4 linked regions of the Homo sapiens genome follow. The protein of the gene in region 1 interacts with the protein of each later gene in a pairwise test. Each region holds a gene or a part of one and is shown in the gene's direction. Other genes may lie near its edges. The genes, in order: SETDB1, GPATCH2L, ACAP1 and LHX5.

Evidence for each region.
Region 2: the proteins of SETDB1 (region 1) and GPATCH2L interact in binary tests that used the Homo sapiens proteins (3 or more experiments, as listed by UniProt).
Region 3: the proteins of SETDB1 (region 1) and ACAP1 interact in binary tests that used the Homo sapiens proteins (3 or more experiments, as listed by UniProt).
Region 4: the proteins of SETDB1 (region 1) and LHX5 interact in binary tests that used the Homo sapiens proteins (3 or more experiments, as listed by UniProt).

What each region holds. Positions count from the first base shown.
Region 1 is NC_000001.11:150,942,398-150,950,476, forward strand, and holds part of SETDB1 (histone-lysine N-methyltransferase SETDB1), read left to right. Parts: intron 1-165; coding exon 166-291; intron 292-454; coding exon 455-656; intron 657-1,522; coding exon 1,523-1,596; intron 1,597-2,520; coding exon 2,521-2,711; coding exon of another isoform or gene 2,712-2,765; exon of another isoform or gene 2,766-2,923; intron 2,924-4,488; coding exon 4,489-4,615; intron 4,616-6,724; coding exon 6,725-6,881; intron 6,882-6,969; coding exon 6,970-7,128; intron 7,129-8,060; coding exon 8,061-8,079. UniProt on the Homo sapiens protein: Histone methyltransferase that specifically trimethylates 'Lys-9' of histone H3. H3 'Lys-9' trimethylation represents a specific tag for epigenetic transcriptional repression by recruiting HP1 (CBX1, CBX3 and/or CBX5) proteins to methylated histones.
Region 2 is NC_000014.9:76,168,695-76,176,773, forward strand, and holds part of GPATCH2L (G patch domain-containing protein 2-like), read left to right. Parts: exon of another isoform or gene 1-2,504; intron 2,505-3,148; coding exon 3,149-3,325; coding exon of another isoform or gene 3,326-3,336; exon of another isoform or gene 3,337-4,851; coding exon 4,852-4,931; exon of another isoform or gene 4,932-6,826; intron 6,827-7,928; coding exon 7,929-7,996; intron 7,997-8,079.
Region 3 is NC_000017.11:7,346,002-7,352,529, forward strand, and holds the end of ACAP1 (arf-GAP with coiled-coil, ANK repeat and PH domain-containing protein 1), read left to right. Parts: intron 1-242; coding exon 243-294; intron 295-389; coding exon 390-490; intron 491-806; coding exon 807-930; intron 931-1,029; coding exon 1,030-1,241; intron 1,242-1,920; coding exon 1,921-1,990; intron 1,991-2,125; coding exon 2,126-2,220; intron 2,221-2,304; coding exon 2,305-2,474; intron 2,475-2,993; coding exon 2,994-3,166; intron 3,167-3,943; coding exon 3,944-4,053; intron 4,054-4,125; coding exon 4,126-4,236; intron 4,237-4,948; coding exon 4,949-4,998; intron 4,999-5,293; coding exon 5,294-5,394; 3' UTR 5,395-5,476; downstream 5,477-6,528. UniProt on the Homo sapiens protein: GTPase-activating protein (GAP) for ADP ribosylation factor 6 (ARF6) required for clathrin-dependent export of proteins from recycling endosomes to trans-Golgi network and cell surface.
Region 4 is NC_000012.12:113,468,635-113,477,692, reverse strand, and holds the start of LHX5 (LIM/homeobox protein Lhx5), read left to right. Parts: upstream 1-5,821; 5' UTR 5,822-6,194; coding exon 6,195-6,367; intron 6,368-8,347; coding exon 8,348-8,571; intron 8,572-9,058. UniProt on the Homo sapiens protein: Plays an essential role in the regulation of neuronal differentiation and migration during development of the central nervous system.

The sequences.
Region 1 (8,079 bases):
AGATCGCACCACTGCACTCCAGCCTGGTGACAGAGTGAGACTCCATCTCAAAAAAAAAAAAAAAATTACCCCACTTTCCCTAATTACCATACTACCCTCTTTACCTTCCCGTTCTCTACCGAATCTATGTCATAACTCTTGAGAATAACTTTGCTTCTTCTATAGGAACCTTGAGTCAGATGTCTGGAGAACTAAGCAAAGATGGTGACCTGATAGTCAGCATGCGAATTCTGGGCAAGAAGAGAACTAAGACTTGGCACAAAGGCACCCTTATTGCCATCCAGACAGTTGGTATGTGCAAACTTGGAGGAACCACTCCTGAAAGGCAACCTGCACCCTCCACTGCTGATTGTTTCTTTTCCCCATAACCTTCCCATTTGTCTCTCACATAGCAGCCTGGATTTATACAGAAACTGGCAGTGTTTAAAAAGATTTATCTTTCCCTTTTACTCAGGGCCAGGGAAGAAATACAAGGTGAAATTTGACAACAAAGGAAAGAGTCTACTGTCGGGGAACCATATTGCCTATGATTACCACCCTCCTGCTGACAAGCTGTATGTGGGCAGTCGGGTGGTCGCCAAATACAAAGATGGGAATCAGGTCTGGCTCTATGCTGGCATTGTAGCTGAGACACCAAACGTCAAAAACAAGCTCAGGTACCTGGACAGAGGACTGTAAAGGGGTAGAGGCTGGGAGCACAGCACCTGCCCTGTTCGTGCCATAGACCAGATACCACAATTAGCTTTTGTCTTCTTAGTCCCCAGTGGACTGAAACCCTTACTCTTTCTTTACCACAGGAGTCATGTGGGTGATTCTTTCTTCCTCTTTCTCCTCCTGTTTTTTTTCCTTTTCTTTCCTCAAAGAGAAAACTAGGAAGAGAATAATGAGGATTGATTAATGGTCAGGGGAATACAATTCACACAGAAGAAAGAAATGGAGACTAAATGGTTATTGGCAGCATAGGAATCTGATAGAGGAAAAAGAATATATGTTTTTTGGCCGGGCCCAGTGTCTCATCCCTGTAATCTTAGCACTTTGGGAGGCCAAGGCAAGTGAATCACCTGAGGTCAGGAGTTCGAGACCAGCTTGGCCAACTGGTGAAACCCTGTCTCTACTAAAAATACAAAAATTAGCTGGGTGTGGTGGCGCATGCCTGTAATCCCAGCTACTTGGGAGGCTGAGGCAGGAGAATTCCTTGAACCTGGGAGGCAGTGGTTGCCATGAGCCGAGATTGCACCACTGCACCCCAGCCTGGGCGACAGAAGGAGACTCCGTCTCAAAAATATTTATATGTATATGTGTTTTTTTAAAAGTAGGGAGGTATTGGTTAAATTAAGGGAGAACTCCTAACTCTCAAGTTGAGAAGAAAGAAAAACAGGAAGAAAGTAGTGGACTGGATTGTCTTCCCTGGAGTGCATCGTGTTGTGATCCAGAGAAGTAGAAGCTATGATAAAATAATTTCTGTGGATCATGTTAAATATCATAACCCCCAGATCTTTCTGCTGTCACTCTTCTTTTATAGGTTTCTCATTTTCTTTGATGATGGCTATGCTTCCTATGTCACACAGTCGGAACTGTATCCCATTTGCCGGCCACGTGAGTGTTTCTCCCTTATTCCTTAGCTCAGTTTTCTCCTCTACCTTGTATTTCTTCTTAGGACATCCAGTTGAAAAGCCCTAGTGTTTTTGGTATTTCAGTCTCAAAGAGCATAAGTTTGGTTGATGTCTTTTGCTCCCAAAGGTCAGTTTGCTCCCAAAAGAGATACAGTTTTATTGTTCATCTCCAGGACTGGGTCTTTGTAGACAAAGAGTGAGACACTAGAAGATCATGAATGGCCTTGAGTAGACTGCTCACGTTATAGATGTGCTTCAATTTCATTTCTAAGTGAGTTACGTTGGAAAAGGTGTTACTTCTTTCCTAGTGTCATACTGCACCTAACATTTGTATAAATGTGTAGTCTGCATAATGCTTTCCACAGAAGCTGTGTTAGATGGAACCTCATAGTGTCCACTATATTTGTTACCCTGGCTTGGGAGCAGACTCCTATGGAAACAATCATTTTTAACTGCAGAAGAATCAACTAACACTTTTGTTTACACATAACATGACAGTAAACACATTCTGAGTCTCTTAAAAACCTGATAGAGAATGAGAAGGAAGGACTAATTTTTTTCATTTCATGATGCCACCTGATCTTTTTAAATTTACCACTAGACTGATCAACAAGTGAGCAAGAATTTCCACTTGAATTTTCCAGAGGAGAAACATCCATTTGTGTAAAATAAGTGAATCACCTATATTGTACATTTCTTATTTAGTATTTACTTGATTTGTAAGTATGTACAGTTTGTACATTAGGTTTATTACTTAGGTGGTCTTGGCTTTGCTTCCCTTGAGGTTCTGATTTTACTTTTTCTCTCCTTTTCAACTTAAAAAGTATCAAATGTCTCCTGGCCAAGTCTTTTCCCTATCAAGACATGCCCTACCTGCCCTCTCAGTTCTACTTCTTCCTTGAAACAGTGAAAAAGACTTGGGAGGACATAGAAGACATCTCCTGCCGTGACTTCATAGAGGAGTATGTCACTGCCTACCCCAACCGCCCCATGGTACTGCTCAAGAGTGGCCAGCTTATCAAGACTGAGTGGGAAGGCACGTGGTGGAAGTCCCGAGTTGAGGAGGTGGATGGCAGCCTAGTCAGGATCCTCTTCCTGGTACTGTTCTTCTCTACAATTTTGGAGGCAGAGGTTGGTGGGGGGGGAACTTAAGAAGCAGTAATGAGGATGGTTTTATAGCTATTCCATAGCCTTCCTCTTTCTTATCCTCGTATGTGTTCTCACTGTTTTTGGTCAAATTTTACTTTGCCCTTTTTGTTGTTCCTCTGCAGGTCATTGTTGAAAATAAATTATCTGAATTATAATACGAATCTGCATGGTTTTGATTTATTTATTTTTTTTCTTTAGGAGTATTCACATTGTGTGTAGGTACAGAAAGGGCAGCCAATTCCATTTTTCCAGGGTTAAGGTTTTAGTAGGATAGTGGGACGAAGAAGAGGGATCAAGGAGTCCTGATTATCTTTCAAGGCTCAGTTTAACTCTTAGGTATTTTGTACTCATCCTTTTCTCCCTTCTCTCTCCCTTCTTAGAATCATATTTCTTATTTTTAAAAGTTTTAAAAACATTTTTTAATACTGCTGCTTGCAGAACAAGGCTACCTGATAGGCAGTGTGCCCAGAGTAGCCAGAAGAAATTAGAAGTTATATTTCTTCTTGGTGTTACCTCAGCCCGTTACTTCTAAGGCCTTATGATCCTTATCATGCTTTTTGTTTGGTGTTTTGTTTTGTTTTCAGACGGAGTTTCACTCTTGTTGCCCAGGCTAGAGTGCAATGGCACGATCTCGGCTCACTGCATCTTCCGCCTCCTGGGTTCAAGTGATTCTCCTGCCTCAGCCTCTCGGGTAGCTGGGACTGGCTAATTTTTTGTATTTTTAGTAGAGACGGGGTTTCACCATGTTGGCAGGCTGGTCCCGAACTCCTGACCTCAAGTGATCCACCTGCCTTGTCCTCCCAAAGTGCTGGGATTACAGGCGTGAGCCACCACGCCTGGCCTGTTTTGTTTTGTTTTGTTTTGTTTTGTTTTGTTTTTTGAGACAGTCTCACTCTGCCACCCAGGCTGGAGTGCAGTGGTGCAATCACAGCTCACTGCAGCCTCAACCTCCAGGGTTCAAGTGGTCCTCCCACATCAGCCTCCCAAGTAGCTGTGACTACAAGTGCATGCCACCACACCTGGCTGATTTTTGTATTTTTAGTAGAGACGGGTTTCGCCATGTTGCCCAGGCTGGTCTCGAACTCCTGAGCTCAAGCAGTCTGTCTGCCTCATCCTTTCGACATACCAGGATTATAGGTGTGAGCTATTGTGCCCAGCTGTCATACCTCTTATACTCAGTATAGATATCTGTTGCTCCTGTAATTCCTTAAACAAGGAGTATATATTTTTCATTGTTGTGTTCCTGATACCCATCATGGATCCTGGCACATACTTTATTAAGTAGATAAGGAATTTTTTTTTGGGGGGGATGGAGTTTCGCTCCTGTTGCCCAGGCTGGAGTACGATGGTGCAGTCTCGGCTCACCACAACCTCCGCCTCCCTGGTTCAAGCAATTCTCCTGCCTCAGCCTCCCGAGTAACTGGGATTACAGGCATGCGCCACCACACCCGGCTAATTTTGTATTTTTAGTAGAGACGGGGTTTCTCCATGTTGGTCAGGCTGGTCTTGAACTCCCAACCTCGGGTGATCCACCTGCCTCAGCCTCCCAAAGTGCTGGGATTACAAGCTACAGGCGTGAGCCACTGTGCTTAGCTTAGACTAAGGAATTTAAGGCTCATCAGGGAGGATTCCCAGAGGTGACACATGGTATATATCCTCTACACAGGACAGGATAGATTCTAGCCTTTAAGCTATTTCCCTTCATTCTTTTCTCTCAATTCCCCAGGATGACAAAAGATGTGAGTGGATCTATCGAGGCTCTACACGGCTGGAGCCCATGTTCAGCATGAAAACATCCTCAGCCTCTGCACTGGAGAAGAAGCAAGGACAGCTCAGGACACGTCCAAATATGGGTATGTCCTGAAAGATTCCTGGAGGAAGGAAGAAACAGGCCAACCAGCAAAGGAGATTATATACAATGGCTATCCTTTGATTAGCATGGTTACACTGTATACTCATTGGAAACAGGATATGTGCCCTGAGTTGTTTCCAATCATGGTGATCAATTTGTGCTGCTGCTTCCACATGCTGTGGCTCTAATTTGTTCTAAACAACCACATAAAAATCTGAAACAGTTGGCTTTAGGTTAGGGTGATAGTAGTTACCCTCTGTTATCCACATGAGAATTGTCAGTTTTGTGTGTTATCTATGGTTAGTTTTTTCTTTTTCTTTTTTTTTTAAATAGACCCGGGGCTTGATATGTTACCCAGGCTGGTCTTGAACTCCTGGGCTCAAGCTGTCTACCTGCCTCGGCTGCCCAAAGTGCTAGGATTACAAGTATGAGCTACCACATCCAGCGTATAGTCAGTTTTCTTTAAAACCCAGACCTGGCCAGGCACAGTGGCTGACATCTATAATCCCAACACTTTAGGAAGCTGAGACAGGTAGGTGGTTTGCTTGAGCTGAGGAATTCAAGACCAGCCTGGGCAACATGGTGAAACCCTGTTTCTACAAAAAAACACAAAAATTAGCTGGGTACAGTGGCATTAAGCTGTAGTCCAGGCTACTCAAGAAGTTGAGGTGGGAGGATCAATTGAAGCCAGGAGGTCGAGGTTGCAGTGAGCTAGATCGTGCCACTGCACTCCAGCCTGGGTGACAGAACGAGACCCTGTCTCAGAAACAAACAAAAAACAGATTTGGTTTTCTTTTTTAATATTACTGTCATACTTTCTGGTTGATTTTTCCTGCCAAAATTAGTTGGTTAAAGAATATATTTCTGAAAATATTTCCCCAAAGTATAACATAATTAGGTAAATCATCTGAGATAGGAAGATATAAAGTCTTATCTAAGGCCCAGCATGGTGGCTCGTGTCTGTAGTCTCAGCACTTTGGGAGGCTGAGGTGGGAGTATCACTTGAGGCCAGGAGTTGGAGATCAGTCTGGGCAACATAGAAAGACTCTTATCTCTTAAAAAAAAAAAATGCTGAGTGTGGTGGTGTGCACCTGTAGCCTTAGCTACTCTGGAGGCTGAGGCAGGAGGATTGCTTGAAGCCCAGGATTTCAAGGTTACAATGAGCTAAGGTCACACCGCTGCACTTCAGCCTGAGTAACAAAGTGGAACACTGTCTATAAAAAGAAAAAAAAGAGGCTACTCTGCCGACAGAGTAGCAATTTTTTTTTTTTTTTTTTGAGATGGAGTCTGGTTCTTTTGCCCAGGCTGGAGTGCAGTGGCACCATCTCAGCTCACTGCAACCTCCGCCTCCCGGGTTCCAGCAATTCTCCTGCCTCAGCCTTCCGAGTAACTGGGGTTACAGGCGACTGCTACCATGCCAGGCTAATTTTTGTATTGTTAGTAGAGACGGGATTTCTCCATGTTGGCCAGGCTGGTCTTGAACTCCTGACCTCAGGTGATCTGCCCGCCTCAGCCTCCCAAAGTGCTGGGATTAAAGGCATGAGCCACCGCGCCTGGCCGTTATTCTTTTATTCCTTTACTTTGTGAATAAACTTGCTTTCACTTTAATAAAAGAAAAAGTATTATCTAAGTCAAAAAACAATGTATGCCAGCGTCCATGCCAGTCAATAATGGGAACTGAGAGTCTAAGCACTTACTCAAAATGTGTCCATTGCTGCTTTTTTTTTTTGAGACGAAGTCTTGTTCTGTTGCCCAGGCTGGAGTACAGTGATGTGATCTCGGCTCACTGCAACCTCCACCTCCTGGTTTCAAGTGATTGTCCTGCGCCTTCCGAGCAGCTGGAATTACAGATGTGCACCACCATGCCCATCTAATTTTTGTATTTTTAGTAGAGACGGGGTTTCACCATGTTGGCCAGGCTGGTCTCAAACTCATGACCTCAAGCAACCTGCCCACTTCGGCCTCCCAAACTGCTGGGATTACAGGCAAGAGCCACTGCGCCCAGCCATTGCTTCCTTTTTATATTGTATAAGTTAAGGATCAGATGTGTGACTGAATACAAGCGTCATAGCTATCATCTTCTCAGTGCTCAATTTCCTTTTTCCTATAGGTGCTGTGAGGAGCAAAGGCCCTGTTGTCCAGTACACACAGGATCTGACCGGTACTGGAACCCAGTTCAAGCCAGTGGAACCCCCACAGCCTACAGCTCCACCTGCCCCACCTTTCCCACCTGCTCCACCTCTATCCCCCCAAGCAGGTGACAGTGAGTGAGTGTTATTCTTTCTTTTTCTTCAGTTTCTTTCATATTATATTTTCCACATCCCTTACTATATGCCCTCTTCTCTAATCTCCTAGAAGCTTGGAAAGCCAGCTTGCCCAGTCACGGAAGCAGGTAGCCAAAAAGAGCACGTCCTTTCGACCAGGATCTGTGGGCTCTGGTCATTCCTCCCCTACATCTCCTGCACTCAGTGAAAATGTCTCTGGTGGGAAACCTGGGATCAACCAGACATATAGGTGAGAAAATCTGAGGCTCTCTGTAGGCAGGATAGCAATGAGTGGTCACTGTGTAGGGGAAGGTTCCTTGGCTGTAAGCGAAGGGCTTAGTTTAAGCTTATGATAGTGAGGAGTTTGGACTTGAAAAGGAAGCTTTACCCATAGAAGTTCCTAAGAAATAGAAAGTAAGAATAATTGAATTGGAAGCTGGGTGCTTGGAAATATGGTATCATCTGAAAGCCATTTGTTAAAACTTCTTGTTGAACATGGTGCCATCATTGCTAAAATAGAAAGGAAACACCACAGCCTCTTTCCTTGGAGTTAGTAAGGACATTTTTAGAACACGCAGCAGACCAAAAAAACATTGGTAGAAGACTGGATTCTACTTCCATAATTCACAGGCAAATACATTTTAGGAAAAGGTATACTGTTGAAATAGAGATGTTAGGCCGGGCGCGGTGGCTCATGCCTGTAATCCCAGCACTTTGGGAGGCCGAGGCGGGTGGATCACCTGAGGTCGGGAGTTCGAGACCAGCCTGGCCAACATGGAGAAACCCTGTCTCTACTAAAAAATACAAAATTAGCCAGGCGTGGTGGCGCATGCCTGTAATCCCAGCTACTCAGGACGCTGAGGCAGGAGAATCGCTTGAACCCAGGAGGCAGAGGTTGTGGTGAGCCAAGATCGTGCCATTGTACTCCAGCCTAGGCAAAAAGAGCGAAACTTGTCTCAAAAAAAAAAAGAGAAATAGAGATGTTATCAGTCAGTGAAGAGTAACCAGGGAGTTTCATTGTCCAGGTTTGGTAGGGCAAGGGAAGATCTTTCTTGAATCATCTTTAGCTTCAGGAGCACAGCTGTTTGAAAGATGAGAGAAATGGCTTAGCTACCTGGAGGGTTAATTATAAAACAGAGGTCCTGTTGCCTTCCGATCTGATCACTTGCATCTCATTTGCAGATCACCTTTAGGCTCCACA
Region 2 (8,079 bases), on another chromosome or scaffold:
AAAGCAAGTCATATGACCAAGCCCAGAGTCAGTAGGATGAGTAAGTGTGCTCTTCCTAAAAGGGAAGGTACTGTGGAATCCAATGGCAAAGAGCAAACGTCATGGATGGATGATTCTGCTATAGAGAGTACTTGGAAATGCTAATGCAGTCTACCACATTAGATTATTGCTTTCCCTGACACCTTTTCTGTTGGATTGCTGGTTGGCAGTGGTTGTGTTCCTCTGCTGAGGGCCACCACTCTTGTTTGGCAGCCTTCTTTTATAACCACAGTTCTTTGGGTTCTGATAACCATTCTTTCCCTTGCCACTCCAAGTCTAGGAATGGTAAGGGCCTCCTGCTGTGCTGGCTCCACCTGATGTGCTTCACTATCCCCTTGTGGGGTTCCTTGTTAGTACTGTCTCCACCTTTGTGAATAGTCACTTCATTACATCTCTGCAATGACCCCATTTAAATGTGCCATGTGTTTGCTGAGGGGGTTCTGGCCAATAGCCCTTTCTCCTTTGTTCTCTGTGGCTCCTTGTATTATACTTACTGTTTCTTTTACTACTCACTAGATTATGTTATTGTTTGTAGGTACGAGTCTTTTCCCTTGAGGCTTTTCAAGGCAGGACTTATTATGTGCAACCACAGTACCTAGCATGTTCCTGGCATATAGTAAATGTTTAATAAATAATTATTTATAATCCAATTAAGGGGAAAACTCTCCTTTTTTTCCCCCAAACAAAATCGAACATAGATTCTCAGATTGTAAAACAACTAAGCCTATTTGGTTTAAAGCAAAATTCTAGAGGAGCCAGAGGTCAGGAGCCCGATCCACCTAGCTTCTTGCTTATTCCCTGGCAGCGCTCTTTTAAGGAGCTCCTCTATCAGGCATCTTAGTGAACCCTGATTGAAGACTGCTGGTCTATGTGGTCTCACAACGTTCCTTCTAGTTCAGGGAGTCCCTTTTTGTATTATTAAAAATCTTGAATGACTGCTTGAGAACCAAAAAAATTCCATTATAGTTTGCCATTTGTCGTCAGAAAACATGGCCTAATTAAATATACTATTTCAATAAATGGCCTAAGGAATGCTTATGAATAAGAAAAGAATTAATATATTGAAGTACAGAGAAACTAGTTATTATACACTAATGCCTGTATTCAGTTCATCTATGTATCTGGTTTCGTGAGATGCTTTTAGAGTAGCGGTTCTCAAAACGTGGTCCCCAGGCCAGCTTGGCATCATGAGGGAACTTGTTAGAAATACACATTTTTGGTCTTGCCCAGACTAGAATCAGAAACTCTGGAGTAAGGGCTCAGCAGTCCATGTTTTAACAAGCCCTCCTGCTGCTTCAGATGCATGCTCAAAGTTGAGAACTACTGTAAGAGAGACAGCTGTTTGTGGTGTGTTTTTATAAGGGAACACTTTGAGTAACTTTCTTAGTTGTAATATCTCCTGCTTTTCACCAGAATGCAGTTTTCATTGCCCATTTTGGAGATCTCCACAGTGATTTAAGAGTTATTATCCTGCGTGTTAATGACCCATGAATCTCATACTTCATGGGATTGACATTTCTGAGCAACTTGTCTGGAATCCAGTGTACATTAGAGACTGACTACATTATGAACTCTTTAGATATTCTTGTAATAATTTCCTTCAATTTTGCTATTTTGCAAGGGGTATGTGGTGGCAGACATACAATTATCTATTCTTTGTTGGCAGGAATAAACTCTAGTGGAAACTGAGATACTATCACTATAGCCAGTAGAAAGAAGTTTGTACTACCAACAGTCTGGATATATGGATCTGGTTGTGACTTTGCTGTTAATTAACAAATGGCCTTGGGAAAATGGTATAACTTATTGAAAAGCCTTAGGGGATTATGTTATTTGTTGCTGTGGTTATTTTTTTTTTCCGCAGTAGCTTGGATTTCTAGTGTCAAGATGATTTCTGTCCCATTAATGAGATACCAACGATAAATGAAGTATGGACATATATTCTTTATTCACCTTTTATGATAAAGGCAAATATAGCAAGAAATCCCTCAGGTATAGCTAGCTTTGAATTGAGAAACATTTATGGGTTTTGAACCTCCAAGTTTATACCACTGAGAATGGTATAGGGGAGGCAGTTTGTTTTTGTAATAAAGATCTCAGGCTTTTGAGTTAGTCAGGCTTTGGGTTCAGATCCTGGCTTCATTGTTTACTAAATTGACCTTGACTTCTCTAGGCTTTAGTTGCCTTGTTTGTAAGTTGGAGTTAGTGTAGGGCTTGGAAGAGATGACATATTTACAGATTTTTAGCATGGATCCTGGTAGGTTGTAAGGGTTTAGTGAGTGGTAGCTTTATTTATTTATTTTTAGCTATTAAAGCGGTCCAGTCTAACACAGTATGACATTTATGTGAAACCAGGTTGGTGTTCCAGTTTTCATTGTAAAATGAATCAAGAAGGACCAGAACAATGCCTTGATTTATTTAAAAGTATAATCAGCCTGTAATTCCAGCACTTTGAGAGGCTGAGGTGGGTGGGAGGATTGCTTGAGCCCAGGAGTTCAAGAGCAGCCTGGGCAACATAAGGAGACCCAGTTTCTACAGAGAATTAAAAAAAAAAAAAAAGACTGGGCGCGGTGGCTCACGCCTGTAATCCCAGCACTTTGGGAGGCCGAGGCGGGTGGATCAGTTGAGGTCAGGAGTCCAAGACCAGCGTGGCCAACATGGCAAAACCCCGTCTCTACTAAAAAAATACAAAAATTAGCCAGGCATGGTGGCGGGCGCTTGTAATGCCAGCTACTCAGGAGGCTGAGTCAGAGAGAATTGCTTGAACCCGGGAGGGGAGGCGGAGGTTACAGTGAACCAAGATCACGCCACTGCACTCCAGCCTAGGCAACAGAACAAGAATCCATCCCCAAAAAAATAAAAAAATAGCCAGGCATAGTGGCATGAGCCTGTGGTTCCAGCCACTTGGGAGGCTGAGATGGGAGGATTGCCTGAACATGTGATTACGCCACTGCATTCCAGCCTGGGTGACAGAGCAAGACTCTGTCTCAAAAAGGAAAAAAAAAAAAAAGGATGATCAAAACTATGGCACTAAGAAATCATCCCTCCCATTTGTTTTTCTCAGACCTTGTTTAAAATTCTAGCTTATGATATGATGTCTTTACTTTAGGTGATGACGAACAGAGTGATTGGTTCTATGAAGGAGAATGTGTCCCAGGATTCACTGTCCCTAATCTTCTGCCCAAGTGGGCTCCTGATCATTGTTCTGAAGTAGAAAGAATGGATTCTGGATTGGATAAATTTTCAGATTCCACATTCCTTTTACCTTCTCGGCCAGCTCAAAGAGGTGAGTTCTGAGGAGACCAAGAACTTAATGCTTTTATGGTTCTCCTTGGGCAGAGCAATCACCCCCTAGCAAGCATACTCATGCCTTCAATCACACATTAACTATCTGAATTTTGGAGCTAGCTCAAGGATTTTCTAGAGGAGTCAAAGTAAGTCTCAAAGCTTAAGGTTCTCTCCATTCCTTCCTAAACTAATCCATGGAAACTCCTGGGACATATATATTATCAGGAGATTCCTTCAGCTTGCCATTGCCGTTTGTGCCAGATTTAGTGACAGCTGCTTATCCTGATGTGAAACTAAGAGGTTATTGAGTATCGGATTTTGGAAGAGAACAGATTTCAATAAGAACATTCACATACATATTCTTATTTTCAGTAAGAGTATTCACATATAATGGTGTTTTTAAAACGGATGCTTTTAAAATAATTTAAGTAGTTTTATTTTAATGACCCTATTGGGACTTTAACACAAATATGTTTCCTTTTCCCTTTGCTTTTTCTTCAATTATGATGTAGCAAAGTGGGTGGAAAGAACCTAGGACAGAGAGATGGAAATGTGGTGCTAATACTCTGATACTGTCTACCAAGCTCTGTGATAGTCACTGCATTTTCCTGGGATGACAGGGTCATCACTTACGATATGTGACATTGGACAAAACCATTTCTTTTAGCACTATAAATTTATGATTCTAGGGTTCCCAGTAACCCATAATCAACCAGTTAATCAGTTGCCAAGAGTTTGTTGAACATCTGTGGGTGATCAGAATCACACTACGAGATGTAAACTTGTATTATGTAGGATTTTGTCATGGTGAATTTTTGTTTGTCATGGTGAATTTTTGTCATGGCGAACCAGCAGTTGGTGCTTGGTAAAGACTAGCTGAGGCACACATTGCTTTATTGAACATTTTGATGAACATTTCTAAAAGTTTCTAATGGACCACTTAAAATATATACAAACAAGCAAGAATAGTGAGAAGAAACTTAAAATGGCCTATAATCTCATATCCAGAGACAATCTCATTAATAACATTTTGGTGTGGTTTCCTCCAGTTGTTCTTTCCTTGTGTAGAACACATGCAGCAGTGAGAAAAATTGGGTTATCCGACACGTGCTATTTTCCCCATTATGTCATGAATTAGAATGTTTTTGACGTACAAACTAACATTTAATTTTAAATTAAAAATTATTAATAGTACCTTATGTTTGTGTGGTGTTTTCAGTTTATAAAGTCCCTTCTGCTTGCTATTTCATTGGGTCTTCAAAACAGCCCAGTAAGGTAGGACTGAGTGATTATCCCTCTTTTATAGATGGAGGATGCCTAGGTCAAAGGTAAATGGCATGCCTGTGATCATACTGCTAGTGACAAAGACCTGGGAATAATAAATCCTTGGCAAATAGCTCTGTGATGCTAGTTTAAAGGTCAATCTATTAAGATCCTGGGGGTAAAGCCTTCAGTGTACTAGAAACATAGGATTGCATATGGATTTTCTGCATTCGGTATCTGAGGCCTTCCTTCTTTTTTTAGGGTACCATACTCGCTTGAATCGTCTACCTGGAGCTGCAGCTCGATGCCTCAGAAAGGGGCGAAGAAGGCTGGTTGGGAAGGTGATACCTCTCACAGTTAGCTTGGCTCAGTGGGGAGATAATATTCCCTATGGGAGTTGTGTATCCTATTAACAATCAGAGGTGCTACAGAACTCCCTGAAGTTAATGGAGCCAACTGGAATGTGTTGGGAGTTTACAAGAGTGAACATTATGTAGAATGTGAATGGATATACAAATAAAAGATGAAACGTAATTCATATAGAAGTACTGACAAAAAAAAAAAACACTGTCATTACAGTGTCTATTGCCTGTAAACCTACAAGCCTGAGCTGTGTCTTCTGTAACTTTTGATTAATGTTATGTTATTATTGTGTAAGTTAAAATACTCTTGGCTTCTTTATGACTCCTCTTGAATTCATGAATGCATCTTTGTTCTTTCCTAATTTTGGTCTTTCATCCTAGAATTCATTAAAAAAAAAAAACAAAACTGTTACTGAGTTTCAAGAGCCCCTCCTTGGCCATGAGGGAGAACTATCTGCTGTTTATTCAGTTCTGCCTTTGCCAGGGATGGTACTAGGGACTCAGCTCATTTAATCCTTCCAGCAACCTACAAGGGCAAGCACCTTCAGCAGATGAGGAAAACTTAGGTTCGAAGAAGTTAAGGAATGTCTGATGTTACCCAGATAGGAATGGTAGAATAGAGATTTGAACCCAGGTCTACTTTTATCTTTTTACATTTTTATTGAATTTTATTTTTTACTCTACTTTGAGATTGAGGAATAAATTAAGACAGGGCTCATCCTCAGTCAGAGAAGATGGTGGTGGGCAAAGAATAAGGAAGGGAGAGGCATTGAGAGCATTAATTTGTTTGTTCACTTGGTAAGCATTTAGAATGCCTGCTAGGTGGCACAATATGTGCCACAGTCTGGCTTCCCTTAAGGGGATACTGTTTTATAGTCTGACCAGGGAACAGTTTTCTGAAGTTTTAAGCATGCAAAAGAAATGAGACTGTTTATTTCCAGACGAGCCCAAGATTCTTATTTCTTTTTATCTTTAAATTCAAGTTCAAATCTTTTTTTTTTTTTTGAGATGGAATCTCGCTCTGTGACCTAGGCTGGAATGCAATGGTGCGATCTCGGCTCACTGTAACTTCCTGCCTTCCAGGTTCAAGCAATTCTCCTGCCTCAGCCTCCCAAGTAGCTGGGATTACAGGCGCCCCACCATGCCTGGCTAATTTTTTTGTATTTTTAGTACAGATGGGGTTTTACCATGTTGGCTAGGCTGGTCTCAAACCCCTGACCTCAGGTGATCCACCCGCCTCGGCCTCCCAAAGTTCTGGGATTACAGGCATGAGCCACCGTGCCCGGCCTCAAGTTCAAATCTTGAATTAGAAGACATTTGATTATTGGAAAACTGATACCTTTCAAATTACTCATTTTACAGACAAAACGCTGCTTTTTCTGTTTTGGGAGCTTATTGTTAACAGGGATAGCTAGCAGAATAGCAGTACATGGGGTGGAAGAAGGAGAGGTTTTACTTTTATTGTTTAGGCTTGACAGATAATGTTCCCCCTGCCACCTGTGTTACTTTCTTTCAGCTCTTATAAAATAAGAGCCATCCACTTCCATGGAAACAAGTCACTTTATCTTGAAGGTTTCCCTTTAGCTTGCCTGGAAGGGAGTGAGGGCCTGTTGGATGTGCCTTTAATGATTTCAAATGAATAGGATAATATTTACTTGTTTAATTCATCTTCATCACCTTAAAGGGATATTTATCATTTCTAGAAGAGGTCACCGCTCTGCCCCCCTTCTTCCCCCTCCCCCATCTCTCTTCTGCTTTTCTAAATTGTAATCATAAATAATGAGTTTCATTCACAGCTCCCTGCCAGTGAGCTGCTAATTACACAAAGTACTGCTTGTAATTTACACAGTAATAAACTGTAAATTTAAACATTACGGCACTTTAAGTTAATAATTTTTCTGCTGTAACAAATAGCTCATTTTTCACCCATCTTTTCCCTTGGCCCCCCTACCATGTCTGTCTGTGACCAGGAGGCATAGCTATAAGAAATGCAGAACATGAAGAATATAGTATATGAAAACTTCTCATTTAACTCCACTACCGCCCGGACTCTGACCTCAGAGTAATTTTTCTACAGCCAGTTCTGCTGAAATGTGTAGCCTGATGTTTAGCACGGTCCACACACATAGATGAATATAGACACAAATGTGTTTGAAGAACAGCCTTGATGTTCTTGGCATTCACGCCCGTGACTTGTGTTCTCTCAACACAACAGTTACTCAGATGTGTGTTGGTATGCTTTCCCAGGTGCCATGGTAGGTAAGCATTGTGAATGTACTCAAGTTAAATGAAGAGTGAATTGCCGTTTTCCAATTTTTTGGAAATGGTTCGTTTCTGAACTCTTTGTGGTGTTATGGGTAAGCTTTTACACTATAATCTTGAGAACCCTGAATTTAGGAATCAATTTTATACAAATTTCTATTTTTATTTCATGAGATGATGTTTGAGGGACAAAGTACAGAGTAACAATTTTTGCAAGTCACAAAATTCTCTTGATGTATTTATATTTAGTCAGCAGATATTTACATTTTACCAGTGAGGATTTGGTAATGTCCCAGGATGAAGGCTGTTGGAACTATAATCAAATCACGTAGCTCTCTAGGAAGCTTGGTGTGTTGGCCTGTTAAAAATTGGCTACTGTTGAATTTTCTAAAAAAGGATTTTTACTCCTATATACTTCAGTAGTTACAGGAGGTATAGTACTTATTAAAATACCATATATGGTGAACAGTGTCTATGATGTATTTATAAAGACTTTTGGATCACTGGAGAATAATAAATGTAGGGTAACATGTAATACTTTTAAGATGGATTCCAATAAAAAGAAGTATAGTTGCTGTTTTATTTTAAGATTGACTTTTAACATGTGCCTTTTGAGGTTGCCTTAGCTGGCACAGTTATGGGAAAGATTGATATTGTACTTTATATGTTTGTTTCTGTGGTTGGATGATACTCTTGTCTGCCTTTTCTTTTTAGGAGACCAGCATAAACACTTTGGGGACTGAGAGGATAAGCCATATCATTAGTGACCCTCGGCAGAAAGAGTAAGTGCTTATGTATTTACTGGCTGTGCTAGTCTGCTCCTTGGAGGAGGAGGCAGAGGGGAGTTTTATGGAGCAACTTAGAA
Region 3 (6,528 bases), on another chromosome or scaffold:
ACTGCCATCTGCTGGAAAGTTGTCTTCATAACTATATGAAATCTGGGTTGTCCAAGATAGGAATAGCATCCTTTAGATGTTCCAATCTGCACAATTGTCCACCCTTCTCTGGAATGTCTCGTGGAACAGTCAGCCCAGGTGTCTGTCCTCTCAGTAAGATCCTCATGGGCAAAAAGCACAGCCTCTCTTCCGTCCCTCATCCTAAAGCTGCCTATGTCTGTAATGATTTCCTTCTCTTACAGACGCTGGTTCACCATTCAGAGCAACCAACTGGTTTACCAGAAGAAGTACAAGGTGAGTGGACCTGGGTCCTGGATGCCTGGGCCCCAGGGAGACTCAGCTCTTGCCTGCAGCTGGACATCTGGCCCCTTATCACCTTATCCTGCCAGGACCCTGTGACTGTGGTGGTGGATGACCTTCGTCTCTGCACAGTGAAACTCTGCCCTGACTCAGAAAGGCGGTTCTGCTTTGAGGTGGTGTCCACCAGCAAGTGAGTGCAATCCCCAGGGGTGATACTCTAATATATCTAAACAACTGCCAATCTGAAAGGCAGGGCCCACCACAATGGAGGCCCCCCATGCAGCTCCAGACTTTAATTTAATTCTTTGGCGGCTGGACTGGGGGGCCATTGTGGAAGAGGGTACAGGGTGATGGGGGATATTTAGGAGAATATTACCAACTGGTACAGAAGTCTTTCAATGCAACTGGAACTGGTTGAATACTGGCTGAATGTCAGTCTGCCCATGCTGCCACTTTGCTTCCCAGGCCTCAGACCCCTCTGCCATCTCCCTCACCCTCCTACCTAGGTCCTGCCTCCTCCAGGCTGACTCAGAGCGCCTCCTGCAGCTGTGGGTCAGTGCTGTGCAGAGCAGCATTGCTTCTGCCTTCAGTCAGGCTCGCCTTGATGACAGCCCCCGGGGTCCAGGCCAGGTACCTTAACCTGGGGGTGCGGAGCCAGGCTGCCTGTGGAGATGGGGCACCCTTTACCCTAGGCCCCTTGGCCACCCTTTCTTCCCCTCTCTCCCCCAGGGCTCAGGACACCTGGCCATAGGCTCTGCTGCCACCCTGGGCTCTGGTGGAATGGCCAGGGGAAGGGAGCCTGGGGGAGTCGGGCACGTGGTGGCCCAGGTCCAGAGTGTGGATGGCAATGCCCAGTGCTGCGACTGCCGGGAGCCAGCCCCGGAGTGGGCCAGCATCAACCTTGGTGTCACCCTCTGCATTCAGTGTTCCGGCATCCACAGGTTACTCCACAAGGCCCATGCGGGAGCCCCACTCCTTCGGGCCACAGTGCGGCTCCAATACAGAGCGCATCACACCGGCCCCTCTTCCTTCCCTGTCCTGGCTTCCTCTCTTAGCTTCTGGCTTTGTCACTGGGTACCAGGCCTGGGCCCAAGCCTCTGGGGTGCCAGTTGGACCCAGGCGGGCCTAGCCCCTCTGTGTCCTAGTCTGGCCAGAATTGGGGGATACCCAGAATTTGTTGGCTTGGTTGGAAGAAGTGTGGGGTCAAGGCTGCTGAGGGTGGGGGAGCCAGTGAAGACTAGGCAGAGAAACGGTCATGAGGCCTTAGCAAGTATCTAAGGCCCTCGCCCCCCACCTCAGTGTGGTGGAAGGGAGGTGACATGGGAGAGGTTGTCCAGGCCAAAGTGTCACAAGTGTCACTAGAGAAGGGAGGTGGCTGGAGTGATGAGGGCCTTGAAATGAAACCTAAGGAAGAAGGAATGGTGACGAGGCAGAGTCCTGCCAGGGCCAGGTCAAGGCTACATGGCGGTTACATGGCCGCAGCTGCCCTGCCTCCTGGGCCAGCACCTCTGCACGGGCCCCCATGCCAGCCTTGCCTCCCAGTGTCTTCAGGAGCAGCAGCAGCTCCCCAGGCCACTGCCCCCCTGCACAGGGCCTGACCCTCCCCCTCTGGCCCTCCAGGAGCCTTGGTGTTCACTTCTCCAAAGTCCGGTCTCTGACCCTTGACTCATGGGAGCCAGAACTAGTGAAGGTAACTTAGCGTATTGTGAAGATTGGGGGCAAGAACTTGGGGTGGGGCAAGGACATGGCGGTGCAGGGGCGTGATCCCTGAGGAGTCACTCACCCCCACCTTCCCTGTCTCTGCCTCTGCCTGGGCCTCCTGAAGCTCATGTGTGAGCTGGGAAATGTCATCATCAACCAGATCTATGAGGCCCGCGTGGAGGCCATGGCAGTGAAGAAACCAGGGCCCAGCTGCTCCCGGTGAGCTTGGGGTTTAGCCTCCCAGGGGAATGGGGGACCCCTGGAGCAGAAGAGGGAAGACTGCGTGCTTCTCCCCTCCCACAGGCAGGAGAAGGAGGCCTGGATTCACGCTAAATACGTGGAGAAGAAGTTCCTGACCAAGCTGCCTGAGATTCGAGGGCGAAGAGGTGGCCGGGGGCGCCCAAGGGGGCAGCCTCCTGTGCCCCCAAAGCCTTCCATCAGGCCCCGGCCAGGGAGCTTGAGATCCAAGCCAGGTATAGGGTTGGTTGGGCATTCATTGAGCATCTGCTGTGTGCTCGGCATCGTGCCAGGTAGCGCCGGGAGGCACAGAGTGTGAAGCCCAGGCCTTCCGCTGGACAATGTCGGAGGGACCGGACTGCCGTTTCAGGGGTTACGGTGGAGTGTGACATTAAGAATGAGAAGGAATGTGGGGCTGGGCGTGGGCAGGGAGGGTAAGGGGTGCCAACAGCACAAGAAAAGGAGAGAGAGAGGGGGTGGGTTTGGCTGGAGCGTCAGGGGTTGAGAGCTGAGGCCAAGTGTGGTTGGACCAGATGAGGTGATGATGCCGTCTCTCCCCCACACCCTAGGGACTCGTACACATGCATACGCATACTTACACATACCCACACTTGCATCACTCTATTCCCTCCACAGTCCCAAGCTCCCCATCATTTAGAAGAGACCTGTCCCATTATAGCATTGGGACACTGCTGAGGGTTTTCTTCCCAGACTCGGAGCTGCTTCCCCCTAACAGAACCAAATCCCCCGAACAGAGCCCCCCTCTGAGGACCTGGGAAGCCTGCACCCTGGGGCCCTACTGTTTCGAGCGTCTGGGCATCCTCCATCTCTTCCCACCATGGCTGATGCCCTTGCCCATGGAGCTGATGTCAACTGGGTCAATGGGGGCCAAGATAATGCCACACCGCTGATCCAGGCCACAGCTGCTGTAAGAGCCCTGCTGACCTCTCCACCCCACCCTAGGGCTCTGACACCTACTCCTGACTCTGGGCCCTGCCCTTACCTCCTTTCCCCACCACCTGTTCCCTAGGGCTTCCACCCATAGGGAGAGATCAACAATAGAGACTGGTTGCTAAGAGTGTGTGATTTGGAGGCAGAGAACCTGAGTTTGAACCCAGGCTCTCACCTCTTACAGGAGACTTTTTTTTTTTTTTTTGAGACAGTCTCGCTCTGTCCCCCAGGCTGGAGTGCAATGGTGCGATCTCGGCTCACTGCAAGCTCCGCCTCCCGGGTTCACACCATTCTCCTGCCTCAGCTGCCTGAGTAGCTGGGACTACAGGCGCCAGCCAGCATGCCCGGCTAATTTTTTGTATTGTTAGTAGAGATAGGGTTTCACCGTGTTAGCCAGGATGGTCTGGATCTCCTGACCTTGTGATCCACCCGCCTCGGCCTCCCAAAGTGCTGGGATTACTGGCGTGAGCCACTGTGCCCGGCCTACAGGAGACTTTTAACAAGTTATTAACCTCTCAGCCTCATCTGTAAAATAGTAACATACCTCAAAAGCTTGTACTATGGATTTATATATGAATACATGCAAAGAGCTAGAGCCAAGCCTAGCTTGGTTACAGTTAGCTGTAACCCCTTCCACACTCCTGATTACCACACTCCACCCTCCCATTCTCTGAACTGGCGCCACCCTAAGACATCTTGAAATCCACCACTAGGGATGCCACCCTCAACCCCCCTTCTCGACTTCTCCATGCAGAATTCTCTTCTGGCCTGTGAGTTTCTCCTCCAGAACGGGGCGAACGTGAACCAAGCGGACAGTGCGGGCCGGGGCCCGCTGCACCACGCAACCATTCTTGGCCACACGGGGTAGGGATGATGGCATGGGGAGGAAGGCTGGGAGAAGTTGGGCGGCCGGCTGACCCTGGCTCTTCTCTCCAGGCTCGCCTGCCTGTTCCTGAAACGGGGAGCTGATCTGGGGGCTCGAGACTCTGAAGGCAGGGACCCTCTGACCATCGCCATGGAAACAGCCAACGCTGACATCGTCACCCTGTAAGAATGCCTGAAGGGGCGGGGCTGGCGCTGGGACTCCCCCCACCCCCGCCCACCCACGTTCGGGCGGGCGGGCGGGGCTGACGCCGAAACAGAAGCCTGTGCTGTGGGGCCTCGGAAAGGGGCTGGGCCAGCGCCGGGGCCAGGCTCGAGAAAGGCTGCGCGAAGTGTGCACTGGGACGTGGAGTAGAAGGCAGGCGGGAGGGCGGGCAGGGTGCAAGGATGCTTGGCCCACCCTGAGAGGCGTAATTCGCCCATCAACATTGCTGTCAGGCATCTTTTTAGCACTAGACGTGACCCCGGGGGTGGGGGCAGATGAACGGAACGCAACCCAGCTCAAAGGATGGGAAGTTGTGGGGGAGGTGAGGATAGTCTTTTTTTTTTTTTTTGAGACGGAGTCTCACTCTGTCGCCCAGGCTAGAGTGCAGGGGCGCGATCTCGGCTCACTGCAACCCCCGCCTCCCGGGTTCAAGCGATTCTCCTGTCTCAGCCTCCCCTGAGTAGCTGGGACTACAGGCGTGCGCCACCACCCCCGGCTAATTTTTTGTATTTTTAGTAGAGACGGGGTTTCACCATGTTGGCCAGGACGGTCTCGATCTCCTGACCTCGTGATCCGCCTGCCTCGGCCTCCCAAAGTGTTGGGATTACAGGCGTGAGCCACCGCGCCCGGCCAAAGATAGTGTCGTTCATTTCTTAATTCCCTCCTCTTCAGGCTACGACTGGCAAAGATGAGGGAGGCTGAAGCGGCCCAGGGGCAGGCAGGTAAAGAATACACCCACCCCACCCCCCAGGCCCAACACCTGAACTCTGGGCTTCTGGTCCACGGTGACCTCTCTCCCTAGTGCCCAGCTGCATTCATTCCGTTATTTAACAAATGCGTATTGGGCGCATGCGACGTGCCAGGCCCTGGCAAGGCATAGGTGCTGGCGCAGTGCCCGCGGCGCGCACGTTCCCACCCAGGCTCGGAGCGCGAGGTCCCCAGGTGGGCCCCAACCGCCGGATCCTGCCCTTCTGCACTGGGGCCCAGCCGCCTCCCGGCCTTTCCTCCCTCCCCCAGGAGATGAGACGTATCTTGACATCTTCCGCGACTTCTCCCTCATGGCGTCAGACGACCCGGAGAAGCTGAGCCGTCGCAGTCATGACCTCCACACGCTGTGACCCGAGGCCCACGGGGCCCGCGCCTGCCTCCCTTCCCCGCCACCGGGCCCTCTGCCATTAAAGCCTCCGTGCTTCGCTCTTCCCTTCTGGTTCACTTCTTGGGCGCCACCTTCGGGCCCGTAGGGTGTTGGGCGCTGCGGCTCCCGAGGTGCGGGGAGCAGCTGGGGGTTTGCGAGCTCCAGTCCAGCAAGGTGCGACTCCGGGGAGCGAGGCGGCAGCTTCGGCCGCGGCCTGAGCGCAGGGCGCTGCGGGGCGGGGGCTCTCGGGCTGGGGCGACGTGGCCAGCCCAGTCCTGCCGAGGGGTGGGGCTGGCCCTGGGGCTCGCTGGCCCCGCGCCGCCGCGGAGAGAGCGCGCCCGGGCCACCCCGGCTGGAAGGCATCCCCGGAATGCGGCGGCTCAGCACCCGCCCCCTCGGGAATTCCCCGGGGGAGCCGCTGGGAGGGACTCGGCTCCCGGGCTGGGCCGGCCGGGCCTCGGGCTCTGAGCGGTGGGATTAGAGGCTCCAGCCCCGCCGACTTGCAGACGTGAGATCGGGCACACCTGAGCGGCGGCGGGGCGGTCGTGGCCACATCCGGGGCGACGTGCCTGAGTCACCCCGTCCCGCCAGCGTCTGCCAGTCCAGCCAGTCCGCCCAGTCTCTCGCGTCCGAGACTCGCCTCCAGCCTCCCACCTCCGCCCGGGCCGCGCGAGCCTCGCGGGGGCGGGGGCGGGGCGCCAAGGGGCGGGGCTGTCTCTTAAAGGGCCCCGGGCCGCTGCCCTTAGGCCACTTCCTGGGGGCGGAGAGGACCTCAGCGGCTGCGGCGACACCCAGGGAAGGCGGCGCGGCCGGGTCCCGAAACTCCTGGCTGTTTCCATCAGAGCCCTCGGACACTCCCAGCCCGGGCTGAGCACGCATCGTCGCTCCCCGGCGGATACAAGGGGGCTCCGCCATCCGCTCCCGTCAGTTCGGCCTCCATCTCCTGGGACCCGCGCCGGCAGCCAGGCCAGGCCTCTGAGTGGCCCCAGAGCCCTGGCTGGACTCGTCCACGGCGGCAGCGATCTGCCCGGGGTCTCGGAGGCCATCCCTTCAGAGTCGGCCCTGTGCTCGCCACCGTCACCTGCTGGTTGGATTCCGGAAACCCACTGTCTGAAGA
Region 4 (9,058 bases), on another chromosome or scaffold:
TTGCCAGATAGCCCAAGGTGTGGGACCTCTAGGGGAGGGGTGCATTCCAGGAGAGGGGCTTGCAGTAAGGAAGGAGGGAAACCCACGCCCTGCTGCAGCTCCAGAGGGACCTCTGAGCTGACTGGCACTCACCAGCGCACACACTCACTCCAGAGAGACCTCTGAGCTGGCCGGCACTCACCAGCGCACACACTCACTTGGAGGCTGGATCTCAGCCACTGCCCTCTCCACCTGCTCCAACCACCAAGATCCAGGGCCTGTCCCCTGAGGGGTAGTAGGCCCAGTGGACTTCCACTAGCTAGGGCCCCTGATGCTACAGCCCCAGAAGTCTGACTCAGAGTTGGCCCACCCCTGCCGGGTCCCACAGGAAGCCCCCTTAAAGTTCCAGCCCGGATATTGGACTGGGGTTTAGTTTAGACTCAGAGCCCTGCTTTCCTGTGCTGGGGGGTGAATGCAGAGGAAGATTGGGCAGGGAGAAAACTTGGTGGGAGATGCCATTGTTTAATTCCCACTTCCTGCAGCTCTCCAAAGGAAGGAAGGAAGGAAGAAGGGAGGGAGGGAGGGAAGGAAGAAAGGGAGGGAGGGAGGGAGGGAGGGAAGGAAGGAAGGAAGAAAGGAAGGAAGGAAGGAAGAAGGGAGGGAGGGAGGGAAGGAAGAAAGGGAGGGAGGGAGGAAGGGAGGGAGGGAAGGAAGGAAGGATGTAAGGAAGGAAGGAAGGGAGGGAGGGAGGGAGGGAGGGAAGGAAGGAAGAAACGAAAAGGAAAAGAAAGGGAAGGGGGAGGGAGGGAGGGAAGGAGGAGAGAAGAGAGGGAGGAGGAATTCCCTGCCTTTTTGATTAAACGTCCCGGGTCGGGCCTGCCCAGTTAACGAGACCGTTAATTAAGCCGAGCACGATTCAACTGACAGGAAGGCCCTGCGCCCCGCAGAGATGTTCTGGAAACCAAGCAATCCACGGCCTAGCGCCAGTGGGGCACACCAGCCACGACGCCCCCGCCTCCCAGGGTTCCACCCAGGCCAGGACACTCTCCCCGCCTGGGCTCCGGGCCGCTCTCAGACGGCCACCCCCAAGGGTTCCCCAGAAAATTCACCACCACCCCCCACCCACCCCACTCCCACCCCCGCCATCCCTCTCGCATCCCTGCCCGGATGTCTAGGCCTGAGCACCCATTGCACCCCGCCGGCGTCCTCTCTGGCCCGCCTGGGAGCGCGCGGTCCCGAGGTTCTCGGGCAAACCCGAACTGCGGAGGGCAGAGGCTGGGCTCGCTGGGTCTCGCCGGAGCGCCACACCAGCCGCTCTCCTCCGGCCTCCAGACAGCGGGGCTCAGCCTTCACGCCCGCTCCTACTCGGGGGCCCGATTCCTTCCGGCGGCGGGCGGTGCTCTGCGGCGCTGCGGGACGCTGAGTGTGTGTGCGAGGCGCGGCCTATATTTACACCCCAAACAAAATAATTACACTTTTGTCGGAGGGAGAAAGCCAGTGATTAGGCGTAGGCTCTTTGCGGCAAAACAGTTTCTCAGTGGTACACCAGTATAATTTTTCACGGCTGGCTGAAATCAAAGAGGGGAGGTAATGAATCCGGCGAGCAATTTAAATTTACAATTTGTAACGCCGCCGCCGCCGCGCAGACCCGGCCGAGAGCGCAGCTCGGAGGCGCTCGCTGCGTTTGTTTAATGTTAAAGCCGCGCTGGCTCTTGGGGGTGGGGTGGGGGAAGTATGCGTGTTGGGGTGGGAGCGGTAATGATCGAAGTCGGGAGAGGACGGGCTGGGTCGCACAAGATGCCACCAAGAGAAGTGGGCAAAGCGCGCGCCTCTCCGGTCCCCCCAGCCACCTGGGCCCCCAGAGCGCGCGTTTCCCAATAAAGCTGCCACTCCCGGCCGTTCGAAGGAGAGGATGCTTTAAGAGGAGCCAGGAGAGACACTGGCTGCCAGAGAAGACCCCCTTTCCTGCTTGGCTGCAGAATCTCCCAGGCCGGAGGCTTTCCGGTGAGGAATAGGGAGGTGCAACTGAAACGACCTCTTCAACCCGCGGGTGGGTCAGCTCCAAACCTCTGGAAGCGCCCTCATTCCGGCCGCTGCCCGGTGTCCCGGGCTGGAGAACTCAAGAGAGGTATGCCCCACGCCCCAGCTCAGCGCTCCCCAAAACTCCCACCCCAGGCTAGTGTGCGCCTCCTCGCCAGTAATTAATTACCGAACTCAAGGGGGAATATGCAAACCGCATATTACTAACTCTACAGGGCTTAAGTGATTGGAAACAGATTATTATCTTGTTTGTCTTTTGTCTGTTTTACTTATCCCGCCGCCGTCTGTCGAGTTGTAATGTTGATACTCTTTACTCTAGGAGGAAGATTTTTATATAGTAAATTCCATCAACATCTTGTATAAGTGACATTGCGTCTCCATGCATTACCCTGTTAAGACACAAGCGGTTTATTAGTTACATATAGGAGGGGATTTCGCTGCCTGGTCGCCATCTGTTAGCGCTGTTAGGTCGGGATGAGTCTAATAGCTGGTCTGCTGGCATTTTCCGATGCTGTGCACCGGGGAAGGTGGTGGGCTAGAGAAGGCCGGGCGGGTTCTGGGCAGCTTGGCTGAGCCCAGGTCCAGGGAGTTCTCGAACTGGGGCTGAGCTGTACTGAGGATGAGGCCCCCAACGCAACTCTAGGGGACTGCAACAAGGGCAGGATTGGTGAGTTCCCCTACAAGAGATGGAAGATCAGACCAGGGCTTCTGGAAACAGAGTCCTCATCTCCTGCAACCAAACATCCAGCCCCAGGTGACTGACGCTCATCCCTACTCAGGGCTGCTCTCATCTTCTTCCCTCTTCCTACGACCTCCCTGGCCTGGCCACACGGTTGTTAGAGCCTGGCTATGCATTGAAGCTCTCTGGGAGATGAGGACTAGTGGATCTGAGATTCAGATAGAGCTGGGTACACAGGCCCCCAGCCACCACCAATGGGTGGGCAAAGCCTGGGCTGGAAACACACACCAGACAGGGCACTTTGCATATTTTGTGGGGTTTGGGGGAGAATGGGCTCAGTGTGCCTAGTCTGGAGCAGAGAAGAAAGTGGTTGGATGGAGGTTCTGAATGATCATGAAGCACGTGGTGGGGGTGCAAGTCTTCCCCCCACACCCCAAAATCTGCACGATGCAAAATAAGGAGCATTCATCTCAGCTTTGAGTCGGATGCTGGATTTGGAAGCTCCAGCAGAGAGGCCAGGGGAGGAGAACAAAAAAAAAGAGAGAGAGAGAAATGGAGAAAGAAAACAAGGGAGAACCAAGAGAAAATGAAACAGAAAGAGAACAGATTCTGAGCATAAGAGAAAAACGGAGACAGAAAGGAAAAGAGATATGGTGAGAACTCGGGAGAGACAGAAAAAGCCTAGTGAGACAAAGACGGAGAAGGCAGTACAGTTCACCTCTGCCGGGAGCCTGAGCACCTCTCTCCTCTTCGGGTTCTTATTTCTTTCCAGCTCTGCCCCTGCCAGAGCTCAAGGATCCTTTAAGCCCAGGCGGGCAGGGCCAAGTGCTGCCAGAAACTGCAGTTCCATTTGAAGTCTCTCATGGCCGAGCCTAGGAGGCCAAGTGAGATTCATCCTGCCTGTTCCTGGTTGAGCTGGGCTCTAACCAGCGTTACTACTATGCTCTGTAGATGCCTGTCCCCTGACAAGCTAGAGGGTCAGGTAACAGCACCAATAAGCAGAAGCTGCCCGGGTTAGGGATTCCTTTTCCAGCGGGCTGGCTGGTGAGTCAATGCTCCACTCTGTAACCAGCACTCACCAATTCCCTGTCCCTAGCAAGATCACCTCCCCTAGATACTGTGGGGGACAGTGCTAGGCCTGAGAGGAAGGGGGACAAGTGGGCATCCCTGAGCCCCAACACAGGCATCCACAAATCCTGCTCCCTCAACCTCCGAATCCACAAAGGTAAGCGCAGCTAGGAGTACACACACAAACACAAATACAAACATAACCCCCTCACACACACATACACACACACACACAAAAGCCTACAGGAGTTGCATAAACAAAAAACTACTGTTTGCACAAATACACACATTTGCAGGCACACACACACAGCGACTGGCACACAAACATAGCTCTTCAGAATTCTGCACTCACAAACACAACCAAGCCAGCTCAGTCTCATACACACAGGGTCTCAAGCATGCACGCCCTCACCTACACACAAACACACACATTCAGATTTTTCAAAGTACACCTTCACATCAATGCTTGCAAACACAGACACAAACACTCTTACGTGAATGCACACGTACACATGAAAACACCCTCACATTTATGCATCCTCAAATAAGCAAACACACATAGGCACAGACCAACAAAAATAAAAGTGCACACAGTGATAAACACAAACATTAGCAGGACCATACACAATTACAAACACACGAATCTGCACACACGAAAACGCACACGCAGAAATTTACTCACAGGATTGATGGTACTAACACAATAAACAGATGCAAAAATGGAATTCTCAAACAGCGAGTATACACTAACAAGCTCAGGAAACACACCCAAACAAACATTCACAGCCAAGTGCTGGCACAAACCCCTCCAGCTCCAGCCCTTGGTCCCAGGCCCTACTCCCTCAGCCCCCTTTCCAGAAGCGAAAGGCAAATCCTGGTTGCCCATTCCCGGCTTCCCCAACTAGGATCCCTGGTGGCCACGCTGGCCCCAGGGGAAAGGAGGCCTGGTCCCTTCTCCTACTCAGACCCACACACCCCCTCCTCACGCACACCTGCCAACATCCCCCCTCCCCCTTAACACACACACACTCTCTCTCCTCACACTCTGGGCGCCCTGCCGAGCACGGAACATACGTGCGCCGCTTCTCCTGCGCCCAATGAGGGGACGAACTTGCACACCCAGCCCGCACGGCGTGAATACAAACAGCGCTCTCATAGTCGCTGGTGTCCCCCGCCTCAGCCGTACGACCCACTCACCACAGTGCCCCATAGGCTGACCTGGAATCTGGAAGGTGCAGCGAGGAAAGGAGAGACGTGGTGAGTGCCACCTCCGAGCTGTCTGCGGGAAGACCCGTCCACCCTGAATCTCCCCCTGTCCACATCTCCCTCAGAGCCCCGTGAGCAGCGCACTCAGGCCTGAAACTCTGGAGTTCGGGACCAGGCCAAATGGCACCCCTCCTGCTCCCCCGCCTCCCCACCCTGGGCCTGGGCCTGGGCTCGGCGGCCGGGCGGGGAAAACTACCCAGGCCGCGCGGTCTCCACTAGCTCTCTCCATGAGAAAGGCCCGGCTGGGCCCCAGCCCCGTGTATGACAAAAAGAAGCCGGGGCCGGCTCCAGGAGCCGGGAGAACCGCGCTGACGCAGCTTCAGGGCGCAGAGGGGGCGCGGGGGTGGGGGAATCCAATCTGGGCTGGCTGGGCTGGAGAAGGGGAGCGAAGTGTGGGGCGTGGGGCAACTTCTGCAAGTTCCAGGGATGGCGAAGGGGGCAGGGGTACCTCCCGGACTAGGCCTTGGAACCCGTGACCCCCAAATATTTGTGAGGAGAAAGAGAGAGGAAGAGAGACGCAATTTTCGTTTCGCGCTGCCCCCGCCCCGTCAGCCCCAAACTGGAAGGTAAATACTTACTTAGCCTCCGAACCAGGTACAAGCTAATACTCAACAATACTGATGCCTTGTTTTTTTTGCTCTGTCCGGACAGCAACGCTGTAGCCAATTTAGATATGCTATAAATTTAAGAGGTTGCCATGGCCACGGTGCGCCCATTGGCCGCTGGGCCCCCTACGTGCAGCGCCACGTCACCAAATCTGAATAAGGATGCGCGAATTACGCGGCGACCAGACAAAGATGAGGATCCGGACCGCTTGAAAGTGGGGGAAAGTGCCGGCGCCTCCGCCACCGGGGAAAGCCGCTCCGCAGCGCCGAGGCCAGCAGCCACCCGAGATACCTGGGGAAGCCCGGAACAGGCGCCGGGGCGTGCGGCCCGTGGCATGAGGTTGTGAACGCCACCCGCCCCCCACCACCCCACTCCGGGCAGCCCAGCGCCAGGCCAGAGATTGCCCAAGGACTGGACCGGCTGAGTCTTGGTCCGGACCAGACTCGCCCTGCAGCTGCTGAGACAAGAGGCGAAGGGCAGCGGAGGGCCCGGCAGGCCCGAGGGCCAGGGGCCCAAAGGGAGGGCAAGGCGGCCGAAGCCGCCGGGGCGCGGGGCTATGATGGTGCACTGCGCCGGTTGCGAGCGGCCCATCCTCGACCGCTTTCTGCTGAACGTGCTGGACCGCGCGTGGCACATCAAATGTGTTCAGTGCTGCGAGTGCAAAACCAACCTCTCGGAGAAGTGCTTCTCGCGCGAGGGCAAGCTCTACTGCAAAAATGACTTTTTCAGGTAAGAGGCCGCGCCGCTCTGCTGCCTGCGCGCCCACCCTGCGCGCGCTCCACTGGGGCGCTGGGGAAGGGGATACCCCCATCCCCATCCCAGCCTCCCCGGATCACAAGCTTAGATGGGGAGCGGGCAGCACTTTGCTCTCCTCCTGTCCTTGGTCCAGGAAAGGTCCCGAGCCCAGGCGGAGGAAGAAGGACGCTGCTTCGCTGCCTCACGTTGGCTCGAGGCCGGCTCAGAGCGCTGGCGGGGCAGAGGGAGGAAGCCCTGACAAACTTGCTATCCACTCCTCTCCGCCCCTTCCAAGCAGCTGCAACCCCAAGACAGAAGCTTCAAGCCCCGTCCCGAGAGAGAGGAAGGATTTTTGCATGAGTTAGAGACGCCTGAAGGCTTCTCGCTCCAGGCAGAATGTGTGAGCCCATCGGCCGCAATCCCAAACAGAAACTTCTCAGCTCCAGAGGGGGCCCAGCGAGGAAGGTCTCCCCTGGTGATGGGAGGAGAGAACCTCCCCCACCCACCTCCCAACCCCTTAAACATTTCCTCCCATGTTGAAAAGTAGAAACGAAATCGAGGCTGAGAATCAGGACCTCTGGGGTCTAGACTGGGCTGTGGCACCTCCCCAGCCCCCCTACCCCTGTGGGCCCTGTGGCTGGCCAGGGCAGATCACCTCTCTGGGCCTCAGTTTCCCCAGCCTGGAAGCCACTGGAGTTTGGGGCAGCTGAGCCCTACCTGTTTCCTCTGGGCACCCAGAGCCGGCTTTGTGAACAGGAATTCCCCGCGCTGAGGAATGGGGGCGTGAATCACGCCACAGAGAAAGGCAGCCTGCCGGCCCCAGCGACTCCGCACTGAGAATTTGAATGGGAGAAAATGTCAGCCGCTCCTTTACACGTGTTAACTCCCTGGACCCGGAGGCCCGATGCCCCTAATGTAGCAGTGCTTGCAAAGTGCCTAATGATTTTTGATAAGGTGCATATGGCCAATTACGCTGCCGGATAAGGCCAAAAGTGACTTATGGCTTCTAATGCCCTCACTACATCAATGTCACCCAAATTCGCCCTGTTTAGAGACATGGGTGTGAGTAGATGTGGGGTCCCTAGAGTCCTGGGTCCTCCCCCACCCCACCCCCAACCTGAGCCTCACCCATCTCCTATTTCGGGGGAGGCTGGCTTTCTCCCTGAGCTCAAAGAAGAAAGAAAAGGAATGAGATCAGGAACGCGGGAAAGCGGGGATTTGAGAGATTCCTGTCCTGGCCTTGCAGGATCTATGATTGTCCTCTATTCACATTCCCCTGCTGCCTGCCAGGCCAGAGGTTTAGGGGGGCTGAAACTCATCCCTGCTCTCTAGGGTCCATCACTATGAGGCCCTGCTGTCCACAGCTCCTGATTAGCTCCAGCGGGTCCCAGAGCGGTGGATTGGAAAGCCTCTCCATTGGTACTGGAAATCAGTGGAAGGTTCCCTCCTTTCTGCTTCCTCCTTCCAGCCTAGGAGAAGGGCTCCCCACCTCATGGCTAGGCTCAGCCAGCCAGGCAGATTGGCCCTAGCTAGGCAGCAGCAGACTAGAAAGGATCCAGGAGGCAGAGCCACCAAGTGGCCCAAACCCTCCCCGCCTGGCTTCAAATCATTCATGGACTCTGAGTTTGCCTGGAGCAGCCCAGGCAGGCCTGGCAGGGGTTGGGTTTGGGGGAGGACATCTTGGGGTGCTCTGGGCTCTCTTCTTGGCTGAAGGCTGCACCCACTGCTCACCCCTTCCCAGCTCAGGAGAGTCTGAAAAGCCCCAGTGGAGGCATGGCAGTCCCAGTCCCAAAAGCAGCTCAGGACATTTGTCCCACTTCTCCCACTCTGGCCAGAGCGCTCAGGATTGGGGTTCCGTTTGACAGATATGGAAATGGGGACTTCACCGAAGCCAGGTCGGGTGGGAAGAGGTCAGGGGCTGGGGAGGGCTGGATGCAGTCCCACCCCATAGTGACAGGCACATTGTGTCCACAGGCGCTTTGGCACGAAATGCGCCGGCTGCGCGCAAGGCATCTCGCCCAGCGACCTGGTGCGCAAGGCCCGGAGCAAAGTCTTTCACCTCAACTGTTTCACCTGCATGGTGTGTAACAAGCAGCTGTCCACCGGCGAGGAGCTCTACGTCATCGACGAGAACAAGTTCGTGTGCAAAGACGACTACCTGAGCTCATCCAGCCTCAAGGAGGGCAGCCTCAACTCAGGTAGGAAGCCTGGGCCCCTCACTAGCCTTAGGCCTTAGCACCCTCCCACCGTGCCCAGCCTGGCACTCCCTACTTGGCCCCCGGTGTGCTGTCTGTGCTGAGCTTGGAGCTCATCAGCCCCAGGCAGTTCTAGGGCAAGGCAAGGGGGTTAGAGGCTAGAGAAGAGAAGTGGCTTTGGAGCAGGTTTTACAGGGGATCTGAGACCTGCCAGCTCTGCCTCACCCTCCTCCAATTCAGGAGCCTTTTCCAAGTTGCCCTCCTCCCCTAATTTGGAAGCGCACAATTCCCCCTTATGTGTCACTTGAGCTCCAGGTAATTTCTTGATGCACTGGAAGGACATTAATTGAGGTCTGGAGAGAGGAGGGAAGAGAGAGGAAGATCCAAGCCCCAAGGGAATCTGTGCCCTCCTTGTCCCCTCTCCTTGAAAGTGGGAGTTCTCCAGAGGGTACGCGTCCCCCTACCCTTACCCAGGTACTAGCTGAGACGC